Linked DNA regions of Homo sapiens: regions 1 and 3 are each reported to be linked to region 2. Evidence: microRNA targets listed by miRTarBase, many of them from high-throughput screens and not tested one by one. Region 2 holds a microRNA gene; each other region holds the end of a gene's coding sequence.
Evidence for each region. The annotated mature microRNA hsa-miR-6817-3p reads UCUCUCUGACUCCAUGGCA and lies in region 2 at 888-906, shown strand. An mRNA with a match to its seed (bases 2 to 7 or 8) in the 3' UTR can be bound and repressed. Matches are read on the target gene's strand: a 7mer-m8 pairs with bases 2 to 8, a 7mer-A1 pairs with bases 2 to 7 and ends in A, and an 8mer does both.

Region 1 (3,139 bases), not on the chromosome of region 2:
CATTGAGGTAGAAGGAGGAGAAGATGGGCTTTCAGATAAGGTGAAGGAAGGAAAACTTAACCCAGCCTTCTGACGGTCCAGTAATTTTTAGCTGGAACAGAGAAGAGGAGTGATCTTTGGTTTAAAAAACAAAATAAAACTGCTTTAGTTTTAGAATTAGCAGCCTTACTGCTGTTTCCAAGAAGGTCTTTGAATTATCTGGAAATAAGCTGTGCTTGAAAGCACTTTGCAAGGTGATGATGTCTGCTGTGAGCCGCTACATATTCTTAGGCTGGAGGTGGGCACCTTCCACCAGAGATGTGGGAATGTGGTAACTTGCTGATTTGTCACAAGAGAATCAGGAAAAATGATCTTTATATATGTCGCCGTGACTCATTTTTTTTCATGAAAGATGGCAGAATTAAAAAGTTGCCTACCCTAATCCTTTGCTTTTCTCTTTTATTCCTAACACTAGAATGTCGGGAAGGTCATCATCAAAGGATGCCGCTACGTGGTCATCGGCCTGCAAGGCTTCGCTGCAGCCTACTCCGCCCCGTTTGCGGTAGCCACCAGCGTGGTATCCTTCGTGCGCTAATGGGAGCTGCTGTGGCAGGTGCCCCCAGAGTGAACGGGAGCCCCTGCTGTGGGAACTTTGTGAATCCTGGAGCATCTCAGACTTGAACACACAGCATATTTGGAAGAGAAAACATGCCTTTCTTTGTTGAATCACATTAGTATGATGAGTGAGTCATCCCTGCCCATCTGCTGAGCTTCTCACATCTCTCAGTCACACGTGGACCCAGTGGTCAATCCTGCAGAGAATTCGGCGGAGGTTAGGTTTGGGAGTGGAGCTAGCGTGCTAAAGCCAGAGCCTTCACGTGAAGGTGGCAGGCACTGGGGCGGAAGCCAACACTCAACAGATGCAAGCAGTGTGGGTGTGCAGCAGAACAGTGATCTTGGGGGAGGAAGAGGATGTTACTAGAGTCAGATGATTTGCTGTATTCTCCTGAAAGGTCGTAGGCTGACAGGCGCTCACATTCCTTGGCTGCCTCGGTTCTGAGGGCAGCTAAGGAGCTGTTTATTCCTCAAGTCATGCTCCCCGATCTCCTTCCTCTACCACTCTGTCACCAGGAGTTTAATTACAGGCTTGAGGAGAAGAAAGGAAGAAAAGATATCTTGATGCTTTGAAAACTGTGTTGGCAGTGTGGCATGACTGTTTAAAGTAGATAAAACCTTGTCATTTTACCCCATCCCTGCATGACTGTGAAGCTGGCGAGGAAGGAGGAAGAAGGGCAAGTTCAGATGCAGGCTGGGTGGCTGGGACAGGTTGGCTAAGGGACTACTCTGGAGGGCTCTTCTGCCTGGCATTGCCCACTTCGGCCCAGCCACGTGTTTGCAGCGACCAGAGTCCCTGCAAAGGTGTGGCTGGCTGTGGTCAGGGTGCTACTAGCACCATCAGCGCACTCCCGCCATTGGCTCAGCTCCTCTCTGCCAGTCCAACTAAGAGTGCTTTGTCCTGGGTGGGACATAGGGGCTGAGAGAGATGGGGGGAGACATAACACCCAGGAATGAAAATACAGATTTAGAGAAGGAACCAGTAAGTAGGAGACAGATGTGAAGGAAATGGAAATGAGGCAAGAGGACATTGGAAGAGAGAAGTTTGCTGTCCAGGAGCCAGGTCTGGAGCATCAGTGTGAGGGAGTTCAGGTAGGCTGGGCCTGTGCCTCTAGGTAGGGACAAGGGAGGCTGGGTAGCCAGGGCTGGTGCTTAAAACCCCTGAGGCCATGAGCTCATTGGCTGCCTTTGTAGCATCCTGTCTTCTTCTGTGCTGCCTGGTTTGATCTCATCTCACCTGGATTCAAAGGGTAAGGTGGGCATGGGTCTTGGGCCTGACACCCACCAAGGATGACCTGTGGACTGCCATCGGATGCTGAACAGGGAGATGAAAGGAGGTCCTCTTACCATACCCCTCTGCCAACCCCCCAGTAGGCCACTGTTCTGACTTTGTTTCCAGAATATCCAGAAATCCAAAGGGGCTGTTGCTGAACAGTCTGCAGGACCAGTGACAGCACCTACCTGTTGTCCCAAGGCATACAAAGGAGGCCTCAACGCTCATGCTTCTCTAATCAAGCCCTACCAAGACAGACAGAAAGACAGACAGAAAAAAGGAAGGGGTAGAGGAGAAGGTTGAAGCTGTGGAGCTAGACTCTGCTTCACTTCCTGAAGCTTCAACTTCATGTCGAAGATTCACTGGGACCCAATTCCTGCATTGTTAATATTTGTGAGGAAAAGTGAAACAAGTGATCTGGTTTTAGCCCAGATGATGAAAGTGGATATGGCACATTTTCACACACGTGAGATAATTACAGCTTGCCCCACAACACTGGGTGTTGGAGAAAGGGAGAGATAGTCATAAGTGGAAGAAAAAGCCAAGCATAGTGAGTGGGAAAGAGAGTGAGAGCCTGTGCAGGCTGCTGACGAGCCCCAGGCAGCCCACAAGTTTCTCGTGGGGAGATGGAGGCAGAGCCCAGGGTAGGGGACAGAGCTGCTGGGGCCTTTCCTTGCCTGGGAATCTGTCCCAGGAAGAGCTTCCCCACTCCCATCCCCCAAATTGGAAAAACCGTACATTCAAGCCTGTTTGGCCCTGAAATTCTTAAGAATCTGGTTAAGAATTAACTCACTAATGTCAAAAGTCAAAACCTCCTAGGGGTTGTCCTGGGAGTCAGGTTCACGGGTACAGAAGATGAATCTCAGATGTCACTCAACCTGAGCCGTCATTCTCTGTGGCAGGGCTGCCCTGGGTTTCTCTTACTCAATCCCTGGAGTGTAAGCATTTGGATTGTGTCACAGATTACCTTTTTACCTTTTCTTTCTTTTTTTTTCTTTTTTTCAATATCAGTGCCCACACCTTACTGAGTATTGAGTTTTAGAGCTTTCGCTTGATGTGCTTGACCAAGAGACTTCTTTTGTATCCTTTTCTTGTCCTATGATGTAAATAAAAGCCTCGATTTATGTAATGTTTCTGGTGTGAAGGGTTCCCAGCTCCTCACTTTCTAGCCTTGCCTGAGGGAGATTCCTGGAGTCCAGCCACACTGAGAGCCTGGCACAGCAGGTGATGACCAGTCGGGAGAGACCTCCCTGGGAACCAGTAGGAGCCCAC
Region 2 (3,139 bases):
TTATAGGCATAAGCCACAGTGCCCAGCCCCTTGACAACTGTTTTGTAAGGAACCATTGCCTGAAGTAGAATTGCTGGATCAAGACTACTTTTCCAAAAGAGGATAATAAACATGATCTCCTCTTTTGTTAATGACTTAGATCATTCCTCTGAAAAGCCATTATTGCACATTGCTGAAATGTTCGCCTCTGCACTGGTTGGTCCCAGAATGCTAATCATTTTGAGATTTGTGCCTTCTTTCTTCTATTTTCTGCTTTCTTCTATTAGCCATGCCCGACCTGAAAGCCATCCCTTCCTCTTTAATGTACTATTTTTCTTCTAATGTGGATCTACAAAAACAGAGTTTGGGCAGAGTCTAACAACAGGAACAAGAGAAGAAACAGATCCAAAGAGAGGGGCTTTGGGCCCAGAGATGTTCTAGAGTCAGTTCTCAGTGGTGAAGGCTGACTGTGCATCTCTCTTCCTAACTTCACTTGCAGCCGTGTCGTATTGATAGCTTGAAATCTGCCACAGTGGGAGCATTTACACCATGGAAATTGGCAAACGCTGCAAATCAAGAGTGTTAATTTTCGTTTTGTTTTTTGAGAGTTGGCTATTAACTTACCAGCATACTATTGGCTTTAGTGCATGGCGTCTATATATTGGTATTTGTTGCTGGGCCGTTATTTAGACTGCCTTCTTATTTCTTAACTGTGTTCCAGGTGGGTAAAGGCAGCATAGCACTGAGTTCTAGATAACTGAGGGGATTTTGCACTTGGATTTGCTGTGCTAAGGTTTGGGTGGGGCTATTACATCTTGCCGGGCTGGGCAAGAGTGAACCCTAGGGGTCAACATCAGTAGCCAGGATTCTGCCATAGGAAGCTTGGAGTGGAACTGACCTGCCCCCTTTCTCTCTGACTCCATGGCAGCTGGGTGAGCTATGAACAGGCCAACTGCAAGGGCGAGCAGTTTGTGTTTGAGAAGGGCGAGTACGCCCACTGGGACTGGTGGACCAGCAGCCAGAGGACAGACTCAGCAGCCTGAGGCCCATCAAAGTGGTGAGCCCCCTGCCATCATCCTACTTTCTCTCTCTGCCACCTTGGAGCAGGAGGTCCTGGGACCAGGAAGGAGCCCGCCCCTCTAGCATTGTGCCCCTTCTGATTGGTGAGGAACCTCCTCACTGGGTGACCTTGCAAAAGTCATTTTACTTCCCTGAGCCTCAGTTTCTTCATCTGTAAAATGGGCATATTGGTATCTACTGTCCTGAGGTTCCAATGTGCTTATTAGCTTGAGGGTTGTCACACTGCAACTCCAGAAGGCTCCAATCACAAGACTATGAAATGCTCCAGAGGGCACTATTCACATTCTATTTTAGGTGGTTGGTGCCCGCCCCCCGCGCCCAAGGGTTGGGCAACTCCCGTCATTGCTCAATAACCAATAGCCATCAGAAATACTACAAGAAATTATGAGTTTGGGGCTGGAGGAGAAGGTGGTTTAGCTCTTCTTCAAGACTCGTGCCAGTGTGAGTTTTCAGTGCTTCTGAGATCCTGATTCTTACTAGTGTGTGAGAGTGTCAACTCTCAGGAAGGGGACAGGGCCCATCACTGCTCAGTTACACTCTCAAACCCTCCAAGCCCAGTCTAGCTCCTCCCAGGACCTACTGGAAGGTTGGAGAACACTGGACTTTGCACCCCACAGACCTGGGTTCCCAAGTTGGCTGTGCTGCTCCCAGCTGTGTGGCCTTGAGCACGTCATTTGACCTCTCTGTGCCGCACTTTCCTCATCTGCTAAATGGCATAAGAGGATTTTATGTCTGAGGGATAAGGGTTTTATGTGTAAAGGATGAGATGAGATAACTAAGGAAAATGTCATAGGGACAGGAGGATGGGAAGAGATGTAGAAATGAAGAAAAATCAAAGTATCTCAGGTGCCTATTAGAGGCACAGTTAGCCTGTGCATGTGTGTGTGTACATGTGTGGGTGTGCATGTGTGTGCACGTGTGTGTGTGCAAGTGTGCACGTGTGTGCACACATGTGTGGGTGTGCATGTGTGTGTACATGTGTGGGTGTGCACGTGTGCGCGCGCGTGTGTGTGTGCAAGTGTGCGTGTGTGCCTGTATGTGTGCACGCTTGTGTGGGTGTGCGTGTGTGTGTATGTGTGGGTGTTCATATGTGGGTGGGTAGGTAGATCGTAGCCACCATTTATAAAAGAGAAACTTGAGGAGGAAAAAATGACATTTCAGAATCAAACATTCCCCAAAGTGTTGCAGAGTGTCTGTTACATGAAAATGGCCCAGTAGAAACTTAACAAACGGCTGTGATCCAACAGCAGTGGTCATAGACACGTAGTGGGTGCATTGGGAAGAGAGTGATGTGTGGGACATGCTGATCCCAACTCTGGGGCATGAGCATGGGGTGGGAAGGCCAACCCTGGGCCCCCTCACCCATACTCACTTCCCCCCATCCTCTGCCAATAGGACAGCCAAGAGCACAAGATCATCCTCTATGAAAACCCCAACTTCACCGGGAAGAAGATGGAAATCATAGATGACGATGTACCCAGCTTCCACGCCCATGGCTACCAGGAGAAGGTGTCATCTGTGTGGGTGCGGAGTGGCATGTAAGTGCATTGCCAGCCCTGGCTCACCCTGCCCCAGGAACTGAGACTCTGGGGTCCTAAGTCCTGCTCTGCCCTGTACACACTGGTGATCTTGCACACATCAATGTGCTCTGCTGACCTCTGGCTTCCCACTGGAAAGTAAATGGGAATTCTCTGCCCATAGGTGGCTTACAGCCGCTGAATTTCTTTCTAGAGCTGCCTTTGGGGAAATGGTATGCCTTTGGAGTGGAGAAACCTTGGCCTTAACCTCAGCCCCAGTGAGCAAGACATGTATGTCAGAGGGGCAAGTTGAGGCAGAGGGAGGATTAGGTTGAGGCAGGAGGGAAGGAATGAGTTGAGTAGTCTGAAAGCTATGAGAAGCAGGAGGACCAGCCCATGCTGCCTTTGACCACTTGTGTCCCTAAGTTTGGGAACAGGAGGTGTCATTTTCCACTGAATCGAAGTTCCTGGGCACATCGACCCTGGCCATCAGCAGTGAGGGATTTCTCATGGTAAAAAATTTGGATTCCATGGGGGTCCACAGATGAGCTTTGGGCAGCGGT
Region 3 (3,113 bases), not on the chromosome of region 2:
GGGATTGGTTTGCAGGTTTGGTTCCAAAACGCACGAGCCAAATTCAGAAGGAACCTTTTGCGGCAGGAGAATGGGGGTGTTGATAAAGCTGACGGCACGTCGCTTCCGGCCCCGCCCTCAGCAGACAGCGGAGCTCTCACTCCACCCGGCACTGCGACCACTTTAACAGACCTGACCAATCCCACTATCACTGTAGTGACATCCGTGACCTCTAACATGGACAGCCACGAATCCGGAAGCCCCTCACAAACTACCTTAACAAACCTTTTCTAACATTGGTTTTTTTTTTTTAGTTTTTAAATTCTTCCTCTTCTTTTTATTATTATTCTAATTATTATTATTTTATTATTTACAAGACTTTTTTTTTCTTCTAACCCACAAGATATTTGGGGAATAAAAATAACAGCTTGGTGTGTAGCATCTGCAGCCACTTGGCAAATGAGTTTACAGTATTGTCTCCTTTAAGTGAATATATTTTGTCTACAAAGTGTATTTGGATTTAAAAAAATTAATTAGGTCTTTCAGTTGGTAAGGAGAGTTTTTGAATAATTCTAATAAGTGCCTCTTAAAATTGTATGTTACTTATTTCCAGAATCTCGAAGAAAAAAGAAAAAAGAGTGGTATTATTATGGGCAAATAATCATATTCCCACTTAAATGATTAGGTTAATAAAGAACCAGATAATTAATTAGTTACTTTTTAAATCTTGCAATTGTATGTGTGATTATGGAGTTTTGAAAACGTTACATTTTTTAAATCTTAAAACTGAAAACTTGTTTTTAGTATTTCTATTTCTTACCTGAACTGTTAATTCAAGTGAGGAATATGATGAAATAAAAGCATTAACTACAGACATTTTAAATAGTAATGATTAATTAGGTGAGAAATCTATTACAGGAATGTGACTTTTCCTTCTCTTAGGGGTGTACAACTCTAAAAACTTTTTACTTGGTTATTTGTTTTTCAACATTTGAAAAATACTTAAGCTCCCTATGTATCCATGAAAATTCCGCATTGATTTTGACATTCCATACTTTTAACCTCCTAAAGCTAAAAACAATAGCTCGGAAACCATTCTTTCTAGTTACTTTTTTTCCCAGGGAAAATGGAAATAAGCAAAATATAATGTTTTAAGAAGTAAAAAAATCAATATAATTTAATTAATAGCTCTATTAATTGGCTTCAGCTGTACCATGATATTGTATCTGGCATTCTATATGAATAATGTTTAAAATACCCAGCCTGGTAGACTTATACCAACAATTGGTTTTGTTTTGTTTTATTTTATTTTGACATAGGTTGACTTATGTATTGAAAATAATTTTTCTGATATTAGAGATTTGAAGTTATTAGTCTTAAAGTAGATAAACTCAGAAGCCTTGTGGATGCTGATCTGAATATATTTCCTAGTTTACAGTAGCATTTTTTTCTTTTAATTTAAGCTAAAATCTTAATGGTCTGGGCAGTGGTGAATGTTCATCTATTACGCTTCTGTTGTAGTTAAATACCAATTAGATTGTGGATTTCCTAAAAAAATAAAAAAGAAGTCAAGATATATGTCTTGCTTTAGTGGATTGTTAAGAATAACTTTGCACATATTTTCCACTTTTTGGACCCCTTAAATCTCCTTTGGTGGTCGAAGTGGCTATTTAATAGATTTTAAAGGTGTCCTTCTGGCTGTATAAATGTGTGGTTACATATTGACAGTTCACTGCCCACATTAAAGTGCATTATTGTAACTTTTGCTCAGGGTCTTTAGAAAATTAGCACAGAAAGTAGCTTATTTTTTAAAAAAAGATGATGGAAGATAAGTTAACACTGTAACAGAAGAAAGGTGTGATTGCCATTATATATTTAGCAAGTATGGTTATCATCTTATATGGAGCTTAAATCTTGACTTTTCATACTTCTATTACATTTTGGGCATTTACCACTAACCAGACCAAACAACCTTGGTAAGGCTGAGATCTTATTAATACACTTTTACAGGTAAAATATTGACACTTATAAATTTTGTTCTTTGACAGAACAATATATGGTACTATATAGATCTACTTTATTAAGTAGACTAATTATAACTCAGTTCTCCTATGTGCCTTATGATATAACTTGGAAGTAAGTTTGTGAAAAATCAGGATATATGTGTTGTTTGTTAAATTAACTGTTTTAAGCCCTTTTAACACCTCACTAGTTTTGTACTGTTTTACCTCTTATTTCTGAAACTCTTTTTATGGTGTATCCTGTTAGAGGGGACAAACATGTCATAGAAAGCAGTTGTGCACTCTTTCAAATATAGTTGATAAATTCAATAATCTTATATATTGAGCTTCGTGTTTATAGTACAGTAAGTGGTCTAGCAAAATTGTCCATGTTTCTTTGTTTATTGATAAATGCATTGTATAGAAACTATTTCCCCTAAATATTTATGGACCAAACAATTGTGATATATCCTATTAAATTTGTGTGAATAAAACATTTTGAATCTAAGGAGTTTTCTTTCCCATCAGTTTTATTTAAGTTTTAACCGTACTAGTGTGTTCCAGCATCTATATGTAAAAGCTTTTCAAATGGTAATACAACATTGTTAGAAATATTTAAACATACAAATAGTTTTTAGACTTCCAAACTTCTGATTCATATGAAATGTTACACATTGTTGCACAGGCAGTGTAATTCAACCTAGAAATACCTTTGAATATATTTGCTTATAACAAAAGTAATGCCCCACTGATTTGACTCAGTCCAATTTTTAGAATAAAAAGGCTAATTAGCATATAAAGTAATTGCATGGAACGAAACCTTAAATATGATTAAGATTTCATGTTAGGTCTATTGAGCACAAATGGATATTTGTAAATCTAAATAGAAATTGCAGACCCCTAAAAGCCAAGTTGCTCTGTAGTTAATAAATTGTCACTATGATTTTTTTCAGGGAGAACAAATCTTGGGGCATTACAGCCAAACATCCCGACGTTTGAAAATTCCCTAAAGTATTAAAAGAAGGGGAAAAGTTTGATCGGAAATCCACTGCAGTGAAGACAAAGACACTATTAGGTTATGATAATCATACATTAAAAAATTTATTAAGCCAAAAAAAAAGAGAGAGAGAGAGA

Region 1: miRTarBase lists C1orf115 as a target of hsa-miR-6817-3p. Seed matches in the 3' UTR shown: 7mer-A1 at 1,517-1,523 and 7mer-A1 at 1,630-1,636.
Region 3: the mRNA of LHX9 is a reported target of hsa-miR-6817-3p. Seed matches in the 3' UTR shown: 7mer-A1 at 3,099-3,105, 7mer-A1 at 3,101-3,107, 7mer-A1 at 3,103-3,109, 7mer-A1 at 3,105-3,111 and 7mer-A1 at 3,107-3,113.

What each region holds. Positions count from the first base shown.
Region 1 is chr1:220,696,158-220,699,296 of GRCh38, forward strand. C1orf115 (chromosome 1 open reading frame 115) reads left to right here. Exons shown (of 2, transcript NM_024709.5): 2 at 455-2,996. The coding sequence ends at 574. Among named protein-coding and RNA genes, the nearest start is that of C1orf115, 7.4 kb to the left of the region's middle. RefSeq lists an enhancer at 248-1,447.
Region 2 is chr22:25,454,805-25,457,943 of GRCh38, forward strand. MIR6817 (microRNA 6817) reads left to right here and starts at 842; the gene lies at 842-907. It also overlaps the pseudogene CRYBB2P1. RefSeq lists an enhancer at 909-1,012.
Region 3 is chr1:197,928,987-197,932,099 of GRCh38, forward strand. It overlaps LHX9 (LIM homeobox 9), which reads left to right. Exons shown (of 5, transcript NM_020204.3): 5 at 16-3,113. The coding sequence ends at 273. Among named protein-coding and RNA genes, the nearest start is that of LHX9, 13 kb to the left of the region's middle.